3 linked regions of the Homo sapiens genome follow. The protein of the gene in region 1 binds, or shares a complex with, the protein of each later gene. Each region holds a gene or a part of one and is shown in the gene's direction. Other genes may lie near its edges.

Region 1 (2,861 bases):
CGGGAGTACAGACCCGTGCCTGCCTGCGCCCAGACAGCTGCACACAGGGTGAGTGGGCAGACACACAGACACACACTGACACACACAGACACACACAACACAGATACACACACACGACACACACAAGACACAGACGCACAGAGACACTGACACACACGCATGATGACACACAAAATGACACACAGTGACACAGACACACACTGATACACATGCATGATGACACACAAAATGACACACAGTGACACACACAGACACACACTGACACACACGTACAATGACACAGACACAGAGACACACACTGACACACACGTACAATGACAGACACAGAGACACACACTGACACATATGCATGACACACAATGACACACACAGACACTGACACACACACAGATACACACATACAATGACACACACAAGACAGACACAGAGACACACACTTGACACACACACAATGACACACACAGACACTGACACACACACTGTGGTGCATGGTGTGGTCCCTAACGAGCCATGACAAGAGCTCCCATGCTGAGGCCGCATGCTGGGTGTCCCTTGTGTTTGCAGAGTACAGCATCTCGGCAGCCGCCATCGCCATCTTCAGCCTTGGCTTCATCATCCTGGGCAGCCTCTGTGTCCTCCTGTCCCTCGGGAAGAAGAGGGACTATCTGCTGCGACCCGCGTCCATGTTCTATGCCTTTGCAGGTAGACTGGGGGATCTGCCTGAGCGCCGGGGCCGGGGGACCATGTCGCGGGGGATTCTCCGCTCCACCCTCATGCCCACCGCGAGATTTGGGTGAGGGGCATTTCCCAGGCTCCATCCCCATCCAGGGGCAAACCTGGCCAGGCCATCAGCGACTCCAGGTGGGTTGGAGGGAGACAGAGCTTGGCGGTTTGTCCATTCCTCTCCACGACTCAACCCTCAAGGCCCCAAAGAAACTGCCCAGAGAATGATTAACAAAAGAAGGAAAGAAACGTGGTCACCTTTCTTTCTTTTTCTTGGGGGATGAGGAAGAGGGTCTCGCTCTGTCATCCAGGCTGGAGTGCAGTGGCACAATCACAGCTCACTGCAGCCTCGAACTCCTGGGTTCAAGGGTTCCTCCCGCCCCAGCCTCCTAGTAGCTGGGACTACAGACGTGCACCACCACACCTGGCTAATTTTTCATTGTATTTTAATTTTTTGTAGAGACGGAGGGCTCATCACTATGTTGCCAGGCTGGTCTCAAACTCCTGGCCTCAAGCGATCCTCCTGCCTCAGCCTCCCAAAGTGCTGGGATTACAGGTGTGAGCCACCACACCTGGCCACATGGTTGCCCTTCTGAGGGATGCAGGAATAGGGTGGTGGGTGGACAAATGGATCCTTCTGCAGGTTCCCATCTAGAACCTGCCTTGAGGCAGCTTTTCCCCCAAGGCAAGGTCACCGCCTCCTCCATGCACACAGGCTGGGATGGGGCTGGTGGCTACGGCAGACGCCCCTCGGTCCCTGAGCATGCCTGGCTCTGCCCCCAGGTCTCTGCATCCTCGTCTCGGTGGAGGTCATGCGGCAGTCGGTGAAGCGCATGATTGACAGTGAGGACACCGTCTGGATCGAGTACTATTACTCCTGGTCCTTTGCCTGCGCCTGTGCCGCCTTCATCCTCCTCTTTCTCGGCGGTCTCGCCCTCCTGCTGTTCTCCCTGCCTCGAATGCCCCGGAACCCATGGGAGTCCTGCATGGATGCTGAGCCCGAGCACTAACCCTCCTGCGGCCCTAGCGACCCTCAGGCTTCTTCCCCAGGAAGCGGGGTCTTGGCCTGGAACCTTCCAGAGAGGAGGCGGGAGCAATTTTAGCCCCACCCTGCTCCCATCTGCCCCCCTGCAACAGTCGCAGGCTGCTTCCTCTCTCTGAGTTCCTCTGGGCTGCCGCAGGCTCCCCTGGGAATAGAGCAAGACGTGAGTCCTAACCTGGCCACAGTTGGGGGAGGCAGAGCCAGCAGGTGGACAGGTGTTTGCAGGGGCCCAACTTCCCCTGGAGCTCAGAGGTGTCCCCACTGTACCAGCCTCTGATAAGCTGCCTCCAGTTGTCCTTTATGAACATTGCAGGGACAACCTGTGTTTGCCAGCTGGGTGTTCCGTGTAAATAGCCAGCCTGTCTCTTTCTCGGTGATAAAACACACCCTCTCTGGTGAGCCCAGCGTCCCCTCCTTGGCTTCCAGGAGCCCTGGGAAGCATTTTTAACTGGGTAGAATCTGACTGTGGCTTGAAATAAAAAGCTCTCAGAAAACTCATGCTTTCCTGGAGCCTTGCATAGAAATCGCTCGGATTCCCAGTCACATCAGGGGCTCCCCTGACGCCGAATGAGAAGGAAAGGCCGGTCACCCGGGTATGTTGAGGTCTTTTGTGGGGACAAGAGGGCAACGCACGTGGCTTAGAGGCTCTGAATTCCAACTCGTATCTCTAGGCCCTGAGATTGTTTTCGGGAGAAACTAGAAACCCTCTGATGAAGCAAGGGTGTTAAAAATAGGAGGGGTTATTTCTAGAGCCTGGCATGCAACGCACCTGGTGCCAACACAGCGCTAAAGCAGCCAGCCAGTGTCTGATTTCTGATGTTGGATTTTTCTTGTGAAGAACATCAGGAAGCAGGGCTTAGCAGTTAGACACTTAGGGCCACATGGAGAGCCATGATTTGCACTCTTCTGCCTTCCAAAACCCCGCAGTACTTGCCCAGGCTTCCAAAGTGGAGTTCAGACATGATCGGCAGATGGGATCCTTGCCTTGCACCCCGGAGAACCCACTGGAGTTCACGCTTCTAGGGCAGGGTTTGGCAAACTATGGCCCATAGGCCACACCTGGCCTGCCCCCTCTTGCTGTATGGCCCACAAGCAA
Region 2 (5,248 bases), on another chromosome or scaffold:
CCATCGGGCCTATAGTTCCCCACTCTACAGCAACCAGCAGTACGCTTGTGTCAAAGATCTCTGTAAGTGCCCTTTATGGAACATGAGGGAATGGGCAAGCCTAGAGATGGTTTCATGCCATCTCTAGCTTTGGGAGCCAAATTCTGAAACAGAAACTTTCTGTTTCCCATAATTCTCCCTCAACCTCACATTTTTATATCCATTTGGATGCAGAGGCAATATCCCCATTTTACAGCAGAGGGAGATACGATTTAGTTGCAACTACATACAGTTAGCAAGAGGTAGAGCCAAGACTGGAATCTTCAGTTGCTAGCTTCAGAATCTGTGCTCTTTGTGTGCAAAATCATTTCTAAGCAAGAACAAGGATTCTAGATTGTCCTCATCCTTACTACAGAGTCATATCAGACTCGGGGCAAGACCCAAAGGCTGCAGGCACCCTGGGCAGGTTCATAATTTGGCAACCCAGGCCGGGCGCGGTGGCTCACGTTTGTAATCCCAGCACTTTGGGAGGCCGAGGCGGGTGGATCACGAGGTCAGGAGATCGAGACCACGGTGAAACCCCGTCTCTACTAAAAACACACAAAAATTAGCCGGGCGTGGTGGCAGGCGCCTGTAGTCCCAGCTACTCGGAGAGGCTGAGGCAGGAGAATGGCATGAACCCGGGAGGCGGAGCTTGCAGTGAGCCGAGATTGTGCCACTGTACTCCAGCCTGGGTGACAGAGCGAGACTCCGTCTCAAAAAAAAAAAAAAAAAAAAAAATAATAATAATAATAATAATAATAATTTGGCAACCCTTAAAAACATATTCATTGACAAATTTGCTCAACATTTATTTGGAGGAGAGGCTGAACTCTGTGAAGAGCATGGGTGAAAAAGAAGAACCTATTGGTGGCAGCACCTCAGCTTACACATGCCATTTAGCAGAACAAAAGCCAGCAGTTAAGGGCCCATTCTCCTTAGAAGGAGAATAGTGATTCTGCGCATGTCTCAGCTCCCAAGCAAGCAAAGTTGTGTTTCAAACATCATATAATGCTCTGCCTGGAAGGAGTTCTAATAAATACTTTCCTCCCTCACTTTACATCACCAGTGATGTTTTTAAAGTCCTTTATAGATTGGTGTCCTGGGTATTGCCTAGCTGACCCTTCCCTAATCTTCCCCGCGGCGCCCCCACCGCCACCCAACACACACATGGGTATCCATCTACTCAATCCCACCTCTCCCTTCCTTTCCTCCAAGCCTTTCTCTGCCTTCCCAATAATGTCTTCTTTCTCCTCCCATTCGATTAGCTGCTGCCAATCGCAATGATCCTGTGTTTGAAACCCTGCGCACTGGGGTGATCATGGCAAACAAGGAACGGAAGAAGGGACAGGCAGATAAGAAAAATGTGAGCACTGTACCTCCCCACGAGGTCCCTCCCAGAGATCCCATGGAGCAGGTCATTTTCCCATTTGGAAAGCTGACAGAAGTAATGGATTGTCTTCCCCTAAAATTGCACAAAACTCGGCCAGGCATGGTGGCTCACGCCTGTAATCCCAGCACTTTGGGAGGCCGAGGTGGGCAGATTACCTGAGGTCAGGAGTTCGAAACCTGCCTGGCCAACGTGGTGAAACCCTGTCTCTACTAAAAATACAAAAATAAAAATAAAAAATCCGGGTGTGGTGGTGCTCGCTTGTAATCCCAGCTACTTGGGAGGCTGAGGCAGGAGAATCGCTTGAACCCGGGAGGCAGAGGTTGCAGTAAGCCACTGCACTCCAGCCTGGGGGAGAAAGTGAGACCCTGTCAAGAAAAAAAAAAAAGGAAGGAAGGAAGGAAAGGAAGGAAGGAAGGGAAAAGAAAAGATAAATGTACATATCTGATCAAAAAAATCAACTGCAAAAAACAACTAGAAATCTGGCCTCAAACTTGTTGATATGGAGGTTGGACACAGATAAGGGATTTCTATGGAGTGAATTAATGACTTGTAAGGCACTAGCAATGTGATATGGCTGCTTCCAGAAGGGCTAACATACTCTTGGGTTATATTCTTTTAAGGGAATTATAAAAATTGTGCTGCTCTTTTTTTTTTTTTTTTTTTTTTTGAGATAGAGTTTCGCTCTTGTTGCCCAGGCTGGAGTGCAATGGCACGATCTCGGCTCACCGCAAACTCTGCCTCCCGGGTCCAAGCGATTATCCTGCCTCAGCCTCCCGAGTAGCTGGGATTACAGGCATGTGCCACCATGCCTGGCTAATTTTGTATTTTTAGTAGAGAGGAGATTTCTCCATGTTGGTCAGGCTGGTCTCGAACTCCCGACCTCAGGTGATCCGCCCACCTCGGCCTCCCAAAGTGCTGGGATTACAAGCATAAGCCACCGCGCCTGACCATGCTGCTCACTTTTTACTTACACACTGGAGTATTTTTAAAGGCTGACAGCATAGTCAAGGACCTGGAATCTGGTAGTGAATTCCCTGTTATTTAGCTACATTCAAGCAGAATGTGGGTGACCCACCTGATAGGATGTTTTAGGGAAAGTCCCTGCATGGCCGGGCACAGTGGGTCACGCCTGTAATCCCAGCACTTTGGGAGGCCGAGGCTGGTGGATCACGAGGTCAGGAGATTGAGATCATCCTGGCTAACACGGTGAAACCCCGTCTCTACTAAAAATACAAAAAATTAGCCGGGCGTGGTGGCAGGCGCCTGTAGTCCCAGCTACTCAGGAGGCTGTGGCAGGAGAATGGCGTGAACCTGGAGGCGGAGCTGGCACTGAGCCAAGATTGCGCCACTGCACTCCAGCCTGGGTGACGGAGGGAGACCCGTCTCAAAAAAAAAAAAAAAGTTCCTGCATTAGGCAGATGGCTGAACTAGATATTTCCTCCAAGGCCTCTTCCAACTCTGAGATCTCTGAGATCCCATTATTCTATAGTTCTCTGACCTGATTATAGACAGCCAGGGCATGTGTTCCCAAGACAGCGTCTCCCTAACTCTGGTGCCCCCTCCAGCCTGTAGCAGCCATGATGGAGGAGGAGCCAGAGTCGGCCAGACCAGAGGAAGGCAAACCCCAGGATGGTGAGTGTTACCCACCTCCATCCAGAGATGGAGTAGGATCAGAGGCTCAGCTGTGGAACAGAGGGTGGAGGAGCAAAGGGCAGGCCAGCTTTGGATAGACGAGGCCCTTCCACAAAAGGGTAAGAGAATAAGAATTGCCCTCCAGGAGACAGACAATTTGTTGGTGTTTCCTATCCCAGGAAACCCTGAAGGGGATAAGAAGGCTGAGAAGAAGACACCTGATGACAAGGTAAGAATCCTTCCTCCCTGCAAGGAACCCAGTTCTCTCCCCAACCCAGCTCTGACACCACTACTCATGGCCCTGGCAGAAGCTCACTCTTTAACTCCTAGGCTTCCCATCACTTCTGACCCACACTCTCCATCAACTTGCACACCCACCCACGACCAAAACACTTCTCTCAGTTCAGGGACCTAGAAGAGAGTTGGAGTGTAGAGTGTGTGGTGAATGTCCCTGCCTTGGAATCCTGCCCCTCAGTGTGGGGTAGAGGAGCCCTAAGACTCATCATTCCCTTGCACCCCCAGCACAAGCAGCCTGGCTTCCAGCAGTCTCATTACTTTGTGGCTCTCTATCGGTTCAAAGCCCTGGAGAAGGACGATCTGGATTTCCCGTGAGAGGCCTTGGGGCAGGGGGCTGGTACTGCGGAGTGAAGAGGAAAGAGCTGGGTTCCCCCAAGGGAAAGGAAAAGGGGGGACTCAGGGCTTGGAGCCTATTGATGCTGGACCCGGGGCACAGCAGGGGACCTGCTATGTGAGTGAGGCCCCTCCCTTCCCCTCCCAGGCCAGGAGAGAAGATCACAGTCATTGATGACTCCAATGAAGAATGGTGGCGGGTGAGAGAAATGGCTAGGGCTAGGGTGGAGTGTGGGTTGAGTCCAGAACCCGACATTGAGAGATGGACTCTCCCTACTATCTTCCCTAGGGGAAAATCGGGGAGAAGGTCGGATTTTTCCCTCCAAACTTCATCATTCGGGTCCGGGCTGGAGAACGTGTGCACCGCGTGACGAGATCCTTCGTGGGGAACCGCGAGATAGGGCAGATCACTCTCAAGAAGGACCAGGTAGGCTGTTGCCCCAACCCAATCCCAGGCCTGAATGCTCCCTAGCCCACCACACTCCTTGGAGAGCTTAACCATTAATAAGACTAGGGTGAGCCCCTGTAAACCCCGGCTCCCCTGCTGTCCTCTCCTACCTTTTCCTTTGATTCCTCTCCTACTTCTGATCCTTTAATCTTCTAGATCGTGGTGCAGAAAGGAGACGAAGCGGGCGGCTACGTCAAGGTCTACACCGGCCGCAAGGTGGGGCTGTTTCCCACCGACTTTCTAGAGGAAATTTAGGCGTGCGGGCGCCTGCAAGCGGGAGACACCCACACCCCATTCTGGGCGGGCCCAGTGGAGTTTGGGGAGGGGGGCGAAAGCAACGGGACTGCTGGGAGAGGAGGGGTAGGAAGGCCCGCCTGAGCGCGACGGGGCTTCCGGGAAGGGACTGGTTCTCGCCCCCTTCCCCAGCCTGGGGCCTCGGATACCTGCTGCCCAGAGCAGCCCGGACCCGAAACCTTTCAGGCCCCGCTTGCAAGAGCTGGAAAAAAACGCGTATCTACTAGGAGGAGCCAGGGACTGGGGCGGGGGGCGGGGGCGAGGGAGGGCGAACTGTCGAATGTTGCGAATTTATTAAACTTTTGACAAAACTTAGAAAAGTTGTTATTTAACTGGGGTTGAGGAGAGGGCCTGCGGAGGGGTGGAGAATCCTCCCTAGCTGTCCCGCCTCGTTACCATCGGGTAACCTGAGACCCATCTGGGCTGAGGTTGGCGGGAGGTGGGAAGTGCGCCCGCCAGGTGAGGCCTCTGTAGTCAGTAAAGAAAGGGGAGCGCAGGGCTGGAGTCGCCGCCCCCGCGCCCCAGCGGTTGGGAGCAGGATCTTGTAGTAGGGTAAGTCCCCCCTTGCTCTTGGCGATTTAGCCGCAGGCAGCCCCTTGCATTTCGGAATCTGGCTTGGCGCCGAGCTAGGCCGCCAGGGGGCGATGCAAGATCTCGGTTGGAGAGCGAGGGATGGGGAGGGGGTGGAGGGTGGGTAAGGGGAGACAACCAGAGACACCAAGCCCGAGACCCTGGGCCTGGGAGGGGGTGGGGTGCGTGCCGTCTCCATGGCAACACTTCCTCAAGTCCTCCGAGAACCGAGCTAGCTAGGCCGGGGGCCTAACCCCACCCGC
Region 3 (7,018 bases), on another chromosome or scaffold:
GGCGGATCACTTGAGGTCAGGAGTTTGAGACCAGCCTGGGCAAGATGGTAGAACCCCATCTCTACTAAAATTACAAAATTAGCTGGGCATGGTGGCATACGCTTGTAATCCCAGCTATTTGGGAGGTTGAGGCGGGAGCATCACTGGAACCTGGGAGGCAGAGGTTGCAGTGAGGTGAGATTGCACCACTGCACTCTAGCAAGGGTGACAGAGTAAGACTCCATCTCAAAAGATAGATAAATAAATAAATAATAAATAAATAAATAAATAAATATGTCCCATTGGGTGTGAAAAGAAAACTTTAGAACTTTTTGTTTTATCTTATCTGGTTTTATTTCTATTTTTGGGTTCACTGTAATGCACATAATTTATAAAACCCCCAAATACACATGCATTTGAGCTGTGCTCAAAAATTTATTTCAATGGCTATTTTTATTTTGAAATAATCTCATACTTTTAAAAAGTTGCAAGTATAATATAAAACCTTTTTTTCTGAACCATTTGAGAGTAACTCCAAAATGATGTTCCATCATCCAAAAACACTTTAATGCATATTTCAAGGCATTGTGTGTATTCAAGGCAAAATGTGTATTACAAGGGCGTTATCCTGCATAATTCTTCTATGTAACCACAACATAACCACAAAATCAGGAAATTAACACTGATGCTTTTTTTTTTTTTTTTTTTTTTTTGGAGACAAGAGTCTCGCTGTCGCCCAGGCTGGAGTGCAGAGGCATGATCTTGGCTCACTGCGACCTCTGCCTCCCGGGTTCAAGCCATTCTCATGCCTCAGCTTCCTGAGTAGCTGGGATCACAGGCACACACCACCATGCCAGGCTACTTTTTGTATTTTTAGTAGAGATGGGGTTTCGCTATGCTGGCCAGACTGGTCTCAAACTCCTGACCTCAAGTGATCTGCCTGCCTCAGCTTCTCAAAGTGCTGGGATTACAGACGTGAGTCACCATGCCAGGCTAATACATTACTACATTCTAATCCTCAGACCCCATTCAAATTTCATTTGCTGTCCCAGTAAATGTCCTTTATAGCAAAAGGATCCAATCCAGAATCAGACAGTGCATTGAGTTGCCTTATCTCTTTCATCTCTTCCATCTGGAAGAGTTCATCAGTCTTTCCTTGACACGATCTTGACACTTGAAGACTGCAGGTCAGTATGTCCCTCAGTTGGGGTTTGTCTGATTACTAGGATATGCATCTTGGATAAGAATGCCACAGAAATGATTCTGTGTTCTCATTACAAGCTATTAGGTGACACCAGTCTTGACTTGTCCCATTACTGGTGATATTAACTTTGCTCAACTATATATATATGACATATCCAATCAATAAAGATCACCAATCTAGAAGACTGTACTGAGTAAGAACACTTCTCAACCTGGAAGCCTGGGAAGGGCATGAAATTTCCACCCATGGGGTCAAGAGATGACTCAATTGGAACAATTAAGGTGTGGGCTATCCCAGAGGCCAGAGCAGGACCTGGTGGCCTCTCAGGTACCTGAGATATTCAATAACCCAAGAGGGAGAGTGGGGCCTAGGCTGGGGCTTTGGGAGAGCCCTGGGTACAGTGATAAGAAACAAGTAAGCCATACGAAGCGGTTCTAGCCAGGCACGGTGGCTCATGCCTGTAATCCCAGCACTTTGGGAGGCCAAGTGGGTGGATCACAAGGTCAGGAGTTTGAGACCAGCCTAGCCAACATGGTGAAACCCCATCTCTACTAAAAATACAAGCATTAGCAGGGAGTGGTGGCACATGCCTATAATCCCAGCTACTCAGGAGGCTGAGGCAGGAGAATCACTTGAACCCGGGAAGCAGAGGTTACAGTGAGCTCAGATTGTGCCACTGCACTCCAGCCTGGGCAACAGAGTGAGACTCTGTCTCAAAAAAAGAAAAAGTGGTTCTGGTCTCCTCTCCTGGGCTGGAGAGATAACTGAGTCCCTTCGTCATCCCCAGGCAGGGCTGCGGACCATTGAGGAAGAGGCAGCCCCCGAGATCTGTCGCACGGTCTCAGGAGACCTGGCTGCTGAGGAGGAGCTGGAGAGAGCCATGGTGGAGGCTGCGATGGAGGAGGGAATATTCCGGGTGAGGGAGAGCCAGGAGCACCCCTAGTGGTCTAGACACCATGAGTGGCAGTGTCTCACAGAGAGGAGGGCTGGGAGCCCAGCCACACGAGAGGGGGACATGGGAGCTGAAGATACCCCACTCCGTCTCTCCACTTCACCACCCACCTCTCCTGGGACTCAGAATCAATGACCTGATCTACTAGAGGTGTCAAATGCAACACACTCTTTCCCACATTTCCCTACCAAATCTCACCCCTTCCCTTTCCTCCCCACAAACCCTAGGCAACGACCCATCTCCCAGAGGCCCTCCAGGATCAAATGCCCTGCCTGCCTCCACTGAGGCCAGTCCTCCATCCTTAGCTCTGTCTCATGTTTCTTATAACACTTTATTGCTGGAAGGTCTTTAATGACACCTAGTTAGGTCTTTTTGGGTTATTCATGAGGAAATAGTGGCCCACAGAGATCATGTGAGATGTCCAATATCACCTAGTAAATCAGTTTCAGAGCGGGGACTAGAACCCAGTGCTGCAGACTCCCGATTCAGCCCTCTCTCCCCTACACCACACTTCTCTTCTGTGTGCCTGTGTCCCCTATATACCTCCTTAGGTGTGTGCTGTCTACCCCATCAAACAAAGAACTTTCTAAGGGTGGGAATTTTCTTCTTTTGATCTCACCACTCAGTCCATCCTCCTTTGGCCTTATAAGATTTGTCTCCCAATACTATTGCTTGTTCCCAATACCACTGTCCCAGAGTGACAGCCCCCCATGCCCTCCCTGCCCTCACCCCCAGTCACTGCTCTTCTCCTTGCCCCTAGAGGACTGGAGGCCTGTTTGGCCAGGTGGACAACTTCCTGGAAAGGACCAACTCCCTGCCCCCCGTCATGGCCAATCAGAGACCCCTCCAGTTTGCTGAGATAGAGATGGAAGAGATGGAGTCACCTGTCTTCTTGGAGGACTTCCCACAAGATCCACGCACCAACCCCCTGGCTCGTGCCAATACCAACAATGCCAACGCCAATGTCGCCTATGGCAACAGCAACCATAGCAACAGCCATGTGTTTTCCAGGTAGTGGCGGCCACTGCCATCCCTGGGTGTAGAGGTACTGGGAGGACAATGTCAGCAGGTTCCAGGTTGGATTGGAAGAGGGTACCCCAAATTTGTAGGGTGTCTTTTGCTTGCCTTTGTGCCCCAATCCATCCTGAACCTTAATGTAAGAGGCCGACCTCGATGGCAGAGGCTTCTTTGGCCAGCAGGGGGAAGCCTCACATCATGTCAGTATTGGCCCCAGTGTTGAGAGGTTCTTTTATTCCGTCGGCTTCAGCAAGTCTAGGAGCTGAGACGTATTGAACACATGATAGGTTAGGAGAGGATCTTCGGTGGTAGCACATACCACAAAAGACTGTGGACAATAAGATTCCATCACTGGATTTAGGTTCCAAGGAGATCCCGCTGTGCTGGGTGGTTCCCATCTCACCAACCTTGGGCTGTAGACTAAATATAATCTGTGATTACGTAAGTGTCATAAAAAACAGCAGGATGAGGGGGAGAACTTCTCAGCAATCATAACTTAGGGGCTAGGCTCAGGCAAAGCTTCTGTTCTAGACAGGAGGTCAGCTGATTGGAGGCCTCTTCGGCCTGGAAAGGCTTAGCCCCAGGCCTCAGGAATAAGCAGAACAAGGCAGCAGCCAGCCCCTTTTCATGGCCAGGGCTGCCTGCACCCCTTCCAGTCACAGAGACCCCTTAAATTCAGCCCACAAGCCTTGAAGGGTGCATGTACCTTTTTGGGTCACCATGGTGCAAGGTAACGTGGAAATACAGAAGCATCAGCCCTGGGCCCTGCCCTGAAGGGGGTTGTCGTCTTGTTGGGTGATATGTTATGTGATATGATTGGGACCAAATAATCACAGAGGCCAGGAGTGGTGGCTCATGCCTGTAATCCCAGCACTTTGGGAGGCCTAGGCAGGTGGATCACTTGAGGTCAGGAGTTCGAGACCTGCCTGGCCAACATGGAGAAACCGTGTCTCTACTAAAAACACACAAAAAATTAGTCAGGTGTGGTGGCGCATGCCTGAAATCTCAGCTACTCGGGAGGCTGAGGCAGAAGAATCTCTTGAACTCAAGAAGTGGAGGTTGCAGTGAGCTGATTGTGCCACTGCACTCCAGCCTGGGTGAGAGAACAAGACTCCGTCTCAAAAAAACAAAACAAAACAAAACAAATAAACAAAAAACACCAAATAATAACAGATATTTAGTGTCCTGAGAGTGCAGAGGGGGTATGGATCACCATGGGCTGGAAAGACCTAGAATGGTTCTCAGCCTTGGCTGTGCATTAGATAATCCAGGGAGCTTCTGCAAATCCCAATGCCTGGGCCTCACCACAGATGCTGGGTGTGGGACTCAGCCACCACTCACCTTTGAGCTCCTCAGGTGATCCTATGTGTGGCCAAGATGGAGAAGCAGGGTTCCAAAGGCTGGGAGGCTGCAGCTGGGCCTTGGAAGATGAACAGAATGTAGAAAGGGTAGAGGGAGCAACTGAGCAAAGGAGTGGAGTCAGGAATGCTCTGGACTCCTTCCTCCTAGAGAGTCAGGGCTGGCTGGGGCACAGTGGTGGAAACGTCAGCCCTAGAGTCACGGCTGCTACACTAGGTTGGCCTTGTACAGGCTCTGAGGGAAAAGGATGTTTGGGGCCAGAGAGGCAGGGATGCCGAGAGAGCTAGCAGCCTTCTCTGGTTCACCCAGCCTTGCTTCCATTTCAGTGTCCACTATGAAAGGGAGTTCCCAGAAGAGACAGAGACGCCTGCTACCAGAGGACGAGCCCTTGGCCAACCCTGCAGGGTCCTGGGTCAGTCCCTTCTGTGCATCTAAGAAGCTTGAGTCTTCTCCCAGAGGAGTCCGGGAAGCCCCACTCTTTTCTTAGAGTCTGGGAACTTGGCTGGGAGGGCTGGCTTGGGAGCCTGTTACAATGGCAGTCATCTGGGCCCTGGAATGGGAAAACCATCAGGACCAGCTACTTGTCCAGGGGGGAAGCAGGGCACCATCTAGGTGGCTGAGTGAGGTGGAAGGGGGAAAGCCCATTCATGCTAAAGGGCCCTCTGCAGGCCTCCCAGGAAACTCACACAGCCCCCTACACCATCCCCAGCACAGGAGTCCCCACACCGCCCCAGGTCCCTGGAAGGGCAGCCCCTGGACACACTGACGTCTTGACTCTGGGGCCCTTCTGCAAATGATCTTGTAGTCTAGTATGTCCTAGACTGCTGTGTGACAGTAGGAGCCCCAAGGATGCTGGGGGCTAGTGGCAATAAGGATACTGCTGTGTTCCCCAACACACTTTCACTTTAATGTGCACACACCCAGGGACCACAGAGGACCAGCTTGGCCAGAGACTCTGGCCCTTATCCCCTCTCCCAAACCTTCAAGAACAGCGACCAGGGCCAGTAAAGTTGGGGCAGCCCTGCCTGGCCTGGAGTTGATTGGGCCTCATCATGTGTCCACCCTCTAAGACACCTTCTGCAGCCCTGAGAATCTCAGAGCTCTCACAGAGTGTGGCTAGCCAGCCAAGCGAGCCTCTGTTGACTCAGGGCTCCTGGCAGGAGTCAGCAGCCCCTCTTATCCTTGCCCCTTCTTGCATACAGGACCCCACAGCAAACCCTGTGTGGAGATGCTGAAGGGACTGCTGACCCAGAGGGCAATGCCCAGAGGCCAGGCACCTCCTGCCCCCTGCCAGGTAACAGTGGCAGAGGCCTGGGAGCAAACTCCATACAGAGACCCTGCCTGGCCTGATACTTGGAGTGGGATCATGGCAGGGGAAGGCTGTGGCAGCAATGTGTCCAACAGTACAGAAGGGACGGGATCCCTCCATCCTCCCCTTTCTGTGGATCTTGGTTGAGTTGCCCTCAGATGATCTGGAATTTTGCTCATTGGTGGGCTCCAGCACCCCTGTCGGGGTCTTTGCTTTTGTACCTTTGGAACAGTGCCCCAGGGTGGAGTCCTCCATGCCTGAGGACAGAAAGAGCTCCACACCAGGGTCTCTTCATGAGGAGACACCCCACAGCAGGAGCACCAGGGAGAATACTTCCAGGTGCTCAGCACCAGCTACAGCCCTGCTGATCCAAAAGGTGAGCCAGGGGCTGGGTCACAGCAGTGGCTGCATTGAGTGGTGGCCCTGTGATGGCCTGGCGTGGAGAGAGGGTAGGGCCAACAGAGGCAGGTCCCCAAATGTGGCTCCCCAGGAAGACCCCACTCAGCCTACTCTCCTCCCTGCAGGCTCTGGTTCGAGGGGGCCTGGGCACCTTGGCAGCTGATGCAAACTTCATCATGGCAACAGGCCAGGCCCTGGCAGATGCCTGCCAAATGGAACCAGAGGAAGTGGAGATCATGGCAACAGAGCTACTGAAAGGACGAGAGGCCCCAGAGGGCATGGCCAGCTCCCTGGGATGCCTGAACCTCGGGTCCTCCCTGGGCAGCCTCGACCAACACCAGGGCTCCCAGGAGACCCTTATTCCTCCAAGGCTGTGATGCCCACACAGCATCAGCATGGGCTTAGAGCTGGCATGACCAATGGGGGTGGGGAAGTTGCTGGGGTGGAGAAGGGCTAGCCCACCGCAGCAGCCTCCCTCCCTCTCAGCAGCTAGATGCATGGCCTGAGGCAGGGTGGTCAGGAACCACCTCAAAAAGTGCGGAGGAAGTAGCTGGACAGGCCCTGCCCCTCACCAGCAAGAGGCATGATTGGATGGAGCTTCTAATGTCATTCAAAAAGGCCTGGTCAGTGCCTGTCTGGCCTAGGGCCACTCCCACCTGCAGGACATTAAAATCTCCAGGCCTGTGACACTGGCAACTGGCCTCTGCTTGTCCAGTTTTTTGGACTCTTCTACACCTGTGTTTCCCCCTCCCCAGTCCCTTCCCCAGGAACCCTGCCCATGGGCTTGGGAGACTGGGCT

Evidence for each region.
Region 2: CACNG1 (region 1) and STAC3 share a complex: the UniProt entries of both Homo sapiens proteins name them as parts of the calcium channel complex.
Region 3: CACNG1 (region 1) and CACNA1S share a complex: the UniProt entries of both Homo sapiens proteins name them as parts of the calcium channel complex.

The regions. Positions count from the first base shown.
Region 1 is NC_000017.11:67,054,539-67,057,399, forward strand, and holds the end of CACNG1 (voltage-dependent calcium channel gamma-1 subunit), read left to right. Parts: intron 1-564; coding exon 565-702; intron 703-1,506; coding exon 1,507-1,733; 3' UTR 1,734-2,259; downstream 2,260-2,861. UniProt on the Homo sapiens protein: Regulatory subunit of the voltage-gated calcium channel that gives rise to L-type calcium currents in skeletal muscle. Regulates channel inactivation kinetics.
Region 2 is NC_000012.12:57,242,940-57,248,187, reverse strand, and holds the end of STAC3 (SH3 and cysteine-rich domain-containing protein 3), read left to right. Parts: coding exon 1-62; intron 63-1,286; coding exon 1,287-1,384; intron 1,385-2,976; coding exon 2,977-3,043; intron 3,044-3,222; coding exon 3,223-3,272; intron 3,273-3,565; coding exon 3,566-3,651; intron 3,652-3,821; coding exon 3,822-3,873; intron 3,874-3,962; coding exon 3,963-4,100; intron 4,101-4,277; coding exon 4,278-4,376; 3' UTR 4,377-4,730; downstream 4,731-5,248. UniProt on the Homo sapiens protein: Required for normal excitation-contraction coupling in skeletal muscle and for normal muscle contraction in response to membrane depolarization. Required for normal Ca(2+) release from the sarcplasmic reticulum, which ultimately leads to muscle contraction.
Region 3 is NC_000001.11:201,039,409-201,046,426, reverse strand, and holds the end of CACNA1S (voltage-dependent L-type calcium channel subunit alpha-1S), read left to right. Parts: intron 1-1,970; coding exon 1,971-2,099; intron 2,100-2,895; coding exon 2,896-3,146; intron 3,147-4,837; coding exon 4,838-4,923; intron 4,924-5,713; coding exon 5,714-5,805; intron 5,806-6,052; coding exon 6,053-6,196; intron 6,197-6,344; coding exon 6,345-6,596; 3' UTR 6,597-6,915; downstream 6,916-7,018. UniProt on the Homo sapiens protein: Pore-forming, alpha-1S subunit of the voltage-gated calcium channel that gives rise to L-type calcium currents in skeletal muscle.